3 linked regions of the Homo sapiens genome follow. The protein of the gene in region 2 interacts with the protein of the main gene of each other region in a biochemical or structural test. Each region holds a gene or a part of one and is shown on either strand. Other genes may lie near its edges.

The links.
Region 1: of the proteins of LYN (region 2) and PPP1R8, one has a biochemical effect on the other in vitro, tested with the Homo sapiens proteins (one study listed by BioGRID).
Region 3: the proteins of LYN (region 2) and LCP2 form a complex in vitro, tested with the Homo sapiens proteins (one study listed by BioGRID).

Annotation. Positions count from the first base shown.
Region 1 is NC_000001.11:27,847,642-27,851,392, forward strand, and holds part of PPP1R8 (nuclear inhibitor of protein phosphatase 1), read left to right. Parts: intron 1-2,451; coding exon 2,452-2,805; 3' UTR 2,806-3,751. UniProt on the Homo sapiens protein: Inhibitor subunit of the major nuclear protein phosphatase-1 (PP-1). It has RNA-binding activity but does not cleave RNA and may target PP-1 to RNA-associated substrates. May also be involved in pre-mRNA splicing.
Region 2 is NC_000008.11:55,882,780-55,886,530, reverse strand, and holds part of LYN (tyrosine-protein kinase Lyn), read right to left. Parts: intron 1-3,751. UniProt on the Homo sapiens protein: Non-receptor tyrosine-protein kinase that transmits signals from cell surface receptors and plays an important role in the regulation of innate and adaptive immune responses, hematopoiesis, responses to growth factors and cytokines, integrin signaling, but also responses to DNA damage and genotoxic agents.
Region 3 is NC_000005.10:170,270,088-170,273,838, reverse strand, and holds part of LCP2 (lymphocyte cytosolic protein 2), read left to right. Parts: intron 1-2,921; coding exon 2,922-3,120; intron 3,121-3,751. UniProt on the Homo sapiens protein: Adapter protein primarily involved in signaling pathways within T-cells, as well as other immune cells such as platelets, mast cells, and natural killer (NK) cells.

The sequences.
Region 1 (3,751 bases), on a different chromosome or scaffold from region 2:
AATCGCTGGAACCGGGGAGGTGGAAGTTGCAGTGAGCTGAGATGGTGCCACTGCACTCCAGCCTGGTGACAGAGCGAGACTCCATCTCAAAAAAAAAATAACCTGCTCTTTATGTGCTGTTGAGTGAGTGCTTAATTTTAAAATACATACCATGCTCCTCTCCCATTTCTCATTCTGTGGAAATGAAATCTATGTTTAGGGAATCCTGGAGTACCACAGAAAGGCTGTAGATAACTAGCCAGCTTGATGTTTCATGTAAATAATGTGCAATATGAATCTGTAAATTCATTTTCCAGAGGGGTGCAGAGAGAGGCCCACCTTCTTTTGGCCTTTCTCTTCGGACTCAAAGTAAGCTATTAGGTGGAGGAGATGCATTATTGCAATACCACACAGTTTGCCATGCCTTTATTTTATGAGTGGCAATGGCACAGATAGGAATGTCAGCCCAGATGTGGATTAAATTTAAAGATAAGTATGTTGGCTGGGTGCGGTGGCTCACGCCTGTAATCCCAGCACTTTGGGAGGCCGAGGTGGGCAGATTACAAGGTCAGGAGATCGAGACCATCCTGGCGAACACGGTGAAACCCCGTCGCTACTGAAAATACAAAAAAAAATTAGTTGGGCGTGGTGGTGGGCGCCTATAGTCCCAGCTACTCAGGAGGCTGAGGCAGGAGAATGGCGTGAACCCGGGGGGCAGAGCTTGCAGTGAGCCGAGATCACACCACTGCACTCCAGCCTGGTCGTCAGCGAGACTCCATCTAAATAAAAAAGATTGTATGTTGAAGAACCAAGGGGTAGAAGTTACAGAGATGCTCCGATCGTTCAGCATGTGGAAGAACTATCAGATAGCTAGAACTGTCCAAACAGCAACAAACTTCCCCTTAAGAGTAGTGAGATCCCTGTTAATATTCAGAAGGTGATTAGAAAATGCTGGTTAGAGATGATATAGAAAGTTTTACTTTTTATAAAAAAAAAATCTCTAAAATATATTAGACTAAGTAAGATCTGTCAGAGTTCCTGCTTAGACTTTGTTTAATCCAAAAGGAGTATAGGATTGAGCAGGATGTTTCATGAGCTTTAGTCTAGTATGGAAAAGTAGATGTTTTTCTGTGGGATTCCATAATGCCCCTTGAGCTTTTTTGTTTGTTTGTTATTCCTTTGGAATGTTTTCTTGTCATTAAAGTACAAAATCAACAGGTGTATAGTTTTATGTCAATTTTATTGCAGTATAATTTACATATAATAAAATCTACACATTTACGTATATAGTTTTGGCAAATATATGTGTAACCACCACCATAATCAAGATAGAGAAGATTTCTCTCACTCCAAAAAGTTGCCTCGTAGCCCTTTGCAGCAGCCCACTCCCAGGCCCAGGCAGCCAGTAAATATTTTCTTCACTGTAGATTGGTTTTGCTCTCAGATTAATGTTTAAAAATTGGACACCAGGTCGGGCGTGCTGGGTCACGCCTGTAATCCCAGCACTTTGGGAGGCCGAGGCGGGCTGATCACCTGAGGTCCGGAGTTCAAGACCAGCCTGACCAACATGGAGAAACCCTGTCTCTACTAAAAATACAAAATTAGCCAGGCGTGGTGGCGCATGCCTGTAATCCCAGCTACTCCGGAGGCTGAGGCAGGAGAATGGCTTGAACCCGGGAGGCAGAAGTTGCTGTGAGCTGAGATCGAGCCATTACACTCCAGCCTGGGCAACAAGAGTGAAACTCTGTCTCAAAAAAAAAAAAAAAAAAAAATTGCACACCAAACATGGACATACCACATTTTTTCCCCCTCAAAAAAGGGTAAAATATCTATTGCCATCTTTTATCATTTCCATTTCCTAAAAGGGATTTTTTTAAAAATGTTTTTTATTTTTGAGACAGAGTCTTACTCTGTCACCCAGGCTGCAGTGCAGTGGCACCATCTCAGCTCATTGCAAACTCTGCCTCAAGTGATTCTTGTGCCTCAGCCTCCCGAGTAGCTGTGATTACAGGCACCTGCCACCACGCCTGGCTAATTTTTGTATTTTTAGTAGAGATGGGGTTTTGCCATGTTGGCCAGGCTGGTCTCAAACTCCTGATCTCATGTGTTCCTCCTAAAAGGGCATTTTAATATGAAATAAGAAAGTGAGCTATGTAACTTTAGGATAAATTAAATTGATATGTTTTACTTTATGTAAAACTCACAACACCATCCTTGGCTGATGTAGGATGGTGAAAACTTTGTTATGGAGCAGTGTTTGGGAACCATCGTAGATGACTGGAAAGGTCTCTTCAAACCGTAAGATTTCAACATCATGAAATAGGTTGTCTGGAAAGGAGAACAGGCTAGAAGTTAGGAATCTTTCCCAAAAGCCATTTTTTTAAGGCTGGAATAGAAAAAGCTAACCACTCTTGGGCCTCACCTCTTGTCTTCTCTCTCCAATCTCTCCCCTCTCCTCATCGTGAACTGTAGAAGAAGCGTGTGGAGGGCCCTGGCTCCCTGGGCCTGGAGGAATCAGGGAGCAGGCGCATGCAGAACTTTGCCTTCAGCGGAGGACTCTACGGGGGCCTGCCCCCCACACACAGTGAAGCAGGCTCCCAGCCACATGGCATCCATGGGACAGCACTCATCGGTGGCTTGCCCATGCCATACCCAAACCTTGCCCCTGATGTGGACTTGACTCCTGTTGTGCCGTCAGCAGTGAACATGAACCCTGCACCAAACCCTGCAGTCTATAACCCTGAAGCTGTAAATGAACCCAAGAAGAAGAAATATGCAAAAGAGGCTTGGCCAGGCAAGAAGCCCACACCTTCCTTGCTGATTTGATATTTTTGGTCATGGAGAAGGGTGGGATTGGGTGGGAATGGGGTGGAAGGGTGATGGGGAGCTAATGAACTAGGGAGAAAAACTTTCCATGTGTGCGGTATCGTCTTTCAGAATGTCTCCTGGCATCCTAACCATGTAATATGACAATTGGGGGTGGGGTTGAAATAGCCCATAAAGACCTGTCTTCACAACACTTGCATTGTAGAGAAAGGCTTCTTATATCCTTTTCAATAGACTGCCCTGGCTCTTTCCTAGGCCTTCCACTACCTCCTTTCTTTCTCCCACTTTCTAGGATCATTTTTATGTAAAGTCACATATCCCAGGCCCTCAGGTTGAATCCAGAGCTGTAGAGGTTACAGTAGCATCACCAGCCTTGGGGGTCCAGAGCCTAATTTATATTCACTATCCTTCCAAGTCCCGGGTAGCAGAAGGGTTGCCATAGATCTCAGTTTGATCAAAAAGAAGGCTTAGAATTCTGCAGTTAAGCTGAGGTTTAAACTAAAAAATGTTTCCTTGGGTCAGTGGTTTTGAGGTCCAGTAGCTAGGCTTTTCTCTTTTGTCCTTCCTGTTGGAATGAAAACATTTCGATTTTCCTTCATCTGTGACTGGTGCCATAGACACAGGTTTATAGTTTTAACTTACAGTATTGTTTGAAATTTACCTGTTTTTCTTGTCAAACCTGAGCACTCCTCCTGCTGAAGTTTCTTATTTAATTCCAGAGTACTGTCCTCTACTCTAAGGCATTACTTTTAAGTGTATTATGAAGGCAGTTTTCAAAGGATATGACCAGTTGGGGTAATTCAAATTAAAAAGGAAAAGATTTGTTTGGAAGTAACTGGTGTCTCTAAGAGGAATTTTTAGATGTCAGTTTGGAGGCTCTTTCCCCCCTCAATTGAGAGCTCTTGTTATTCAGAGCTCCAAGACTAGACCTGGCTAACAAACATAG
Region 2 (3,751 bases):
CATGCCTGTAATCCCAGCACTTTGGGAGGCCGAGGCAGGCAGATCACCTGAGGTCAGGTGTTCGAGACCAGGCTGGCCAACATGATGAAACCCTGTCTCTACTAAAAATACAAAAATTAGCCGGGCATGGTGGTGCATTGGTGCATGCCTGTAATCCCAGCTACTCGGGAGGCTGAGGCAGCAGAATCGCTTGAACCTGGGAGGAGGGGTTGCAGTGAGTGGAGATTGCACCATTGTACTACAGCCTGGGCGACAGAGCGAGACTCCATCTCAAAAAAAAAAAAAAAAAGATGTTTGACAGCCACTGTTCTATCCCAAGAATTTAACAAGGAATTTAACAATTTTTAAAATAGTCCTGAATTATTATAGTTAGTATTTAAAAATTATTATGTAGCCTGAACATTAAAAGATTTCGAAACGTCTACCCAAGAGTTTCATAACACTTTCCATGACGGGGAATTTCAAAATGTACATTTTTCCGTTGCTGAAAAAGTCAGGCATGGCCAGGGTGGGCTTCGCAAAGCAGGCTCTGCCCTTAAGACTCTAGACTGCTCCTCTCTCCCACCCCGCCCCACCCCTCACTTAAGGGCAAACCGAAAATGCAGAGGGCAGCAGAGGGTAGAAAGAACCCCGAGGAAAACGCAGCATTGGGTGGTAAGGAAGGTGGGGCTGCAGGCAAATGACCCAGGGGCCTGGGGTGGAGGAAGTATCACTTCCTTGCCTGCCTCCTCTGGGGCCTTTTCTCTCCAGCATCGGGCTACAGTTCTGCTCTCCGTGACACAGCTTCCCCCTGGAAAGCAGAAGTGGTCCTCCCTCTCCAGAGAGCCTCTCTGAGATAAGCTTCTCCATTCCCCTCACCTCCGTGGGGGTTAACATTTACAGGAAGAGTGGGGGCACCCAGAGACCCAAACACCAAGAAGACGTCATTGCTTCAGTGGGAGGCAGAATGAATACACACCCATCTCTCCAGTCTCACTGTACCAGCGCCCAAGGGTAGGCCCAAAGACCACACGAAGACCTCCCCACCAGATGTTTTACCAATGGAGGGAGGAAAGCGGGGACTGGAAAGAAGCTTCCAACCAGTATGGTCTGGTGTCAATAAAGAGGAGTGAGCAAGATTTCAGATGCTCACAGAAAGGTGTGGGCAGGCAGGCAATATGTAACTTTGCCTGAAGCATGGACTGTAGAAAGGAAATGAGACCAACTAAAAAACTATCTGAGCTGTGAAGACTTCTTCCCAGTGTTCTACAACCCAAAAGCAGAGCCTCAACCATCAAGAAACAGCCACTTAACTGGATTATTTAAATGTATCCCGATTCATGCAGTTCTATAGGATGTCATTTAAGTAGCAGCATTCTGAACACTGAGCATTTACAATAATGAGGTTAACTGACAATCTCTTCCCATACACGGTCAGCTCATGCCAATTCCTGGTTGAAGAAGCCTTTGTAAGATGATAGGGAATGAAGTGGGGAGAGCAGAAGAAGGGGTACTGGAAGCCTGAGGGTTAATAAAGCTCAGTGAAAGAGCAATGCCATGGAAGAGTTCTATACCAAGGAAAACTGTATCCTGAGTGTAAGTACAGCTTTTAAGAAATAGCTCTGTGGCAAATAAGGAATGCTGCCAGCTAATTCAGTAATGAGAGAAAATGAAGTACAGAACAGGATGAAGGGGATAAACAACAAAGGCTACTACAGGCCCTGCTCTTGTCAGCATGGATGAGGCTTTTTAATACATCATCCCAAGTATTTAAACTTGCTCTTCTAAATTACAAGACAGGGCCAGGCACGGTGGCTCACACCTGTAATCCCAGCATTTTGGGAGGCCGAGGCGGGCTCACCTAAGGTCAGGAGTTCAAGACCACCCTGGCCAACATGGTGAAACCCATCTCTACTAAAAATACAAAAATTAGCCAGGCATGGTGGCGGGCGCCTGTAATCACAGCTACTAGGGAGGCTGAGGCAGGAGAATCACTTGAATCCAGGAGATGGAGGTGCAGTGAACTGGGATCACGCCAAAGCACTCCAGCCTGGGTGACAAGAGCGAACTCTGTCTCTTCAGTGGGAGGCAGAATAAAAAATAAAGAGAGCCCTTCCAACTAACTTAAGCCAAATATACCCCAGAAAGGCCAGGCGCAGTGGCTCACACCTGTAATCCCAGCATTTTGTGAGGACGAGACGGGCAGATCACTTGGGGTCAGGAGTTCAAGACCAGCCTGGCCAACATGATGAAACCCCATTTCTACAGGAAATACAAAAATTAGCTGGGTGTGGTGGCACATGCTTGTAAGTAATCCCAACTACTCAGAAGGCTGAGGCAGGGAGGATTGCTTGAACCCAGGAGGCGGAGATTGCCGTGAGCTGAGATTGCACCACTGCACTCCAGGCTGGGCGACAGAGTGAGCCTTCATCTCAGAAAAGAAGAACAAACAAAACAACAACAACAAAAATCTCAAAAGGTCCAAGTCTTTAAACTGACAAAATTTCTAATCCCTCCATTGGCAGATTTCCATACCATTCTCTACACATGGGTATCTCCCCCGAAAGGGAACTTATTCAAAATAAATTTTAGAAATGATAATGGAGTGAACTTAAAGTTTCACAATTTAAGTATCAGGAAACCAGACAGCTGTAAGAAATCTTTCAGTATTTCTGACTGGAAAAAAAAAACCCAACAACTTCCTCTTCCATGTTCTTCTCTTCATTATCAGCCTTAAAAGATGGGAGGCAATGTATATCTATACTGTTGGCCTAGAACAGTGCCTTGCACACAGCAGGTGCTCAAAATGATCAGGTGTTTTAATGTGCGTCCTATGAGCCCTGTCTCCTTAATTTATATTTTCACTTAAATGATGCTCTCACTGATAAAACAACCAGGAGGTTGGCAAAGTTTACAGGGAGACACTCCCAGCACAGGTCGGGGAAAGTCCTTTTGCAAAGTATTACTCAGGTACTTCTGTATTAACCATTAAGCAACTGATTGCCCCCAAGACAGTCACTAGGGCTGCTCGGACAGCAGCCAGTATAGGTGTCATCTTAGCAGTTACTGGAGACCACCCTTTCCCACCCCCAAGCAAAAAGCAGTGCTAAAAAGCACAGAAATTCATTTCTAGAAGACAGCTTGAAGTGCCCAGCTTGATGGTGCATCTGCTATGTCCTGAGCAGTTAGCCACTTAGTTCAGACAATTACCAAGTGATAAAAGAAAATTAACTCATGATTTCACTTTTAAAATGTTTGTTAAATGACCTATTTATTTGCTTTTAAGCACAGATGGTCTGCAACTTAATGATTTTTCAACTTTACGATGGTGCAAAAGCATTAGGCATTCAATAAAAACTGTACTTCAAGTACCCATACAACCATTTCATTTTTCACTTTTAATACAGTATTCAATAAATTACATGAGCTATTCAACACTTTATTATCAAATGGGCTTTGTGTCAGATGATTTTGTCCAACAGTAGGCTAATGTGAGTGTTTCGACCATGTTTAAGGTAGGTTAGGCTAATCTATAATGTTTAGTAGGTTAAGTGTATTAAATGCATCTTCTACTTTCAGTATTTTCAACTTACGATTGGGTTTATTGGGACACAGCCTCATCATAAGTTGAGAGGCATTTGTAATTGAGCACACACTACAAGTCCAAAGGTGGACAAGTAGAAAGAGCCAAAAAACATACCTACTACTCCTAATGGTACCGCTTAACCAAGCCTGTGACCTTAGACAACCCCCTGAATCTTTTTCTGTATCT
Region 3 (3,751 bases), on a different chromosome or scaffold from region 2:
GAAAAGAACTTCAGAACCAACTGTTGGCCCTGAAAAGACCTCAAAGAGGGTGCAATCCAGTTGATTTTTACATTGAAAGGTCACAGTTCCCCCTCTGAGAGTCTGACGGATTGTACAACCCCTCCCCAGGAACCTGTATACACAGTCACCACCCATGAAGCAGTCTCAGGCTAAGAACTCTATTATGGACCGTAGCCCAATCTGTTCATTTTACAGATGAGGCAACTGAGTCCACAGGAGAGCAGAACGTGACGTGCGTAGAACACAAAGTTAGTTAGAGGCAGACCTAGGACCCAGGTAACCAGACCCTCAGTCACGTGGGCCTTCTGGTAAGAGGCCACCTCTAGTGCCTTCAGAAGGCAGAAACAAACTGTCCCTTGACCTATTGGGATTCTGGTAAAAGAAAGTATTTAATTGGAAAAAAAACAAAAAAAAGATTTAGCTAAGTTTATGCTTTCTACCTGAAAATGAAGGAATTTGACAGATTTCTCTGGTACAAAGGGAAAATAGCCCAGAGTTTCCGCTGGAATGTTTCTGTTTACTCACAGAGGCAGAATCCTTGCCATGCAGCCTCTCTTGTGCTGTGCCTGAGGCTAGTCTTCGATCCTCTCTGTAAACTGAGGGCTTCCATTCACTAGTGGCTATAGAGCTTGGCAGCTCCGTTATGTGCCCAGCTCTTTGCAAGGGCATACTGGGAAATGAGTGGAGATAAAGGACCCAATCATAAGCATTTTACAGTATGGATACCCCATTTTAAAAAGGTAAACTGAGGCACAATGCAATTTTTTTTTTTTTTTAAGGAGTTTATTTGAGCAAACAGTGATTCATGAATCAGGCAGCACCAAACCAGAAGGAGGCTTTGCTGAAGAAGGATGAGGGACAAGCATTTATAAAGTGAATGTAGATGTAATACAAAGAAAATATTTGAACCGGGTGCGGTGGCTTACACTTGTAATCCCAACACTTTGGGAGGCCAAGGCGGGCAGATCACAAGATCAAGAGATCGAGACCATCCTGGTCAACATGGTGAAACCCCATCTCTACTAAAAAATACAAAAATTAGCTGGGCGTGGTGGTGCGTGCCTGTAGTCCCAGCTACTTGGGCGGCTGAGGCAGGAGAATTGCTTGAACCCGGGAGGTGGAGGTTGCAGTAAGCCGAGATTGCACCATTGCACTACTCCAGCCTGGTGACAGAGAGAGACTCCATCTCAAAAAAAAAAAAAAAAAAAAAAAAAAAAAAAGAAAATATTTGATGGGTTACAGTTATAACCGATCTCATTTAGTCTATCTTGCTGGAAAGCTCCTAGTTATATAATTATGAGTTGGCTGGCTACTTCTGATTGGTTGGGCTTAAGTTCTGTTTTTCTTTAATACAGGCATTTACAAGAAATAGCCCAAGTTAACTTTTGCTTATGCTGCAAATCAAGTAAGGTTTAGGTCACTGATGAGGCCCAACTGGTTTTGTCTGCTCAGGGATTCTTCAGGCCTGGTCTCCATTTTAATTTACTTTAACACACATATGGCAGAATATAATTAGCAACAACATCATGCATACAAATTTAGGAGCCAAATGATTGGGAGAAAATAATTGTTCTAGAAGCAGAGAGGAAAATTCTGTCATTTGAGAAAGGTTGATGGGGTAAAGAGCTGGTGTAAAGTCAGGAATGATGGGCCTAGGGTAGACAGGGTGAGGAAAGGGTCAGCAGCCTGGAGGGAGGCCACGTGCCTGCGGACCTCCATGCTGAGGCTCTTGATCTGAAGCAGCATTCCTCTGGGGCTCTGCCCACCTGCTCCTAAAGTTATAAGAACCCTGACAGGGCAGGACAAAGTCTTTTTTTGGAGTTGGGAAGGCACCCAATGCTCACTTTGCCCCTCTGTTGTTGATGTTTTTAATATTCCTCAAGTCAAAAACAAACACAGGACTCTCTCAACAGAACAACGTAAAGACAGTCTGCCTGAGGCCACCCAAAGCTGTCAGGATTTCTAGGACACTGGAACATTTCTTTCCTCAAAAAGTGGCCACTTCCCATTGCTTTTTCCCACACTGCCCTTGAGTGTTGAGGTCTGGGCTCATTGACTCACCCCCTGGACTTTGGCATGACCATGATGAGCGCTCATCACTGCTGCTGATGGTGCCGCCTTTGCTTGGGAGGTCATTCTGATGCTCATTCACCTTCATGGACTGCTTCAAAGGCAAGCATCCAGCACCTCGGGCTTACTTTCCCTGAGATCCAAGAAGAAGCAAAAATAAAATACAATAAAAAATCTAAAATTTAGAGATTCTTTCCAAGAGAACAGCTTCAAACTCAGTGTCAGATTTCATGAATAATGGATGTGTTGATACACTCAACTTTCAGCAAAAAGAACAGCACAGCCTCTGACGGTCCCCTCCTCGACACAACTTAATCTGCCTTCCACTTAACAGGCTTTGTTTATCTGTTTTTCCCCTTAGCCGGGCCTTCAACGCTGCACCAGGTTATAATGAGAGGACATTTTTTGAGCACAGGCACCCTTGAACAGAAATGGCAATTAACTAGTATCATCACAAATGCTCCAGGCCTTTAGTCTTTCTCATGGTGATGCCTGGAGCAAAAAATGTGTTTACTCAAGACAGAGCCTATTCCGGTACCTTCTATTCCAGCATCCTTCCCCTTTCTTCTCTCTCTGTTGTGCAGAAAGGTGTTGTGTAAAAAGGTGGTCCGAAGACCTTCACCAAGGTCTCAAGTCCATGACTTGCTGCCCCTGTGGTACAGTGCTCCCTGACCTCAGATTCCTCATCTGTAAAATGGGAGTAACCATCTTCAGGCTGCCTGGTCCCGGGTTATACTGTTGTGAGGCTTGGCAGGGAGAGAGTAGGCACAGGCACATCGAGGGCCACAGAGCCTCTACAAACTGCACTGTCCCTATCACTGTGTGGGCAGGAAGAAGACGATTATGAAAGTCCCAATGATGACCAGGATGGGGAGGATGATGGAGACTATGAGTCCCCCAATGAGGAGGAAGAGGCACCCGTGGAAGATGACGCGGATTATGAGCCGCCACCCTCCAATGACGAGGAAGCTCTGCAGAACTCCATCCTGCCTGCCAAGCCTTTCCCCAACTCCAACTCCATGTACATCGGTAAGGGCCCGTTTCCGGATTTTCTGGCCCGAGCAGCCCAAAGGCAAGCTCGCCACTGCTGCATGGAAGGCTGATGCCCCAGCTTGCCCATGTAGCAGAAAGCTCTGGGTCTCGATATCTGCTCGGCTTCTTAACAGCTATGTGGCTTTGTACAAGTAACTCTGTCTCTCTGGGCCTCAATTTCCTCATCTGTGAAATAGGATAATAAATGTACAGACCACATAGGTTTCCTGTGAGGACTACTAAGACTGCAACCAATTCTTGCCTATGGTGGCTGATATCAGCATTGAACTACCACCTAAGGCTATTTGGCAGTTTCAACTCATTCTGCAGTTTACTCAGGTACTCCAAGAGTACTTTCCTGTTCCTCCCCATCTTTTGACCAAATTATAGTTACATGGCATTATTATGCTAGAATAAACATGAAGATATTGAGTAGGGTTTGACTATAACTTTAAAAAATATTAGATGGTGTTTACGATTTTTATTGTCTATCTGTCCTTTTAGCCCACTTCTCTCTCCATTCATTCAACAAACATTGTTGATCTGCTGGGAGCCCAGGCCCCATTCTCAGTGCTTAGAAATGATCAGGAAAGAAGAAATAGCCCCTGCCTCCTGGGGCTTACATTCT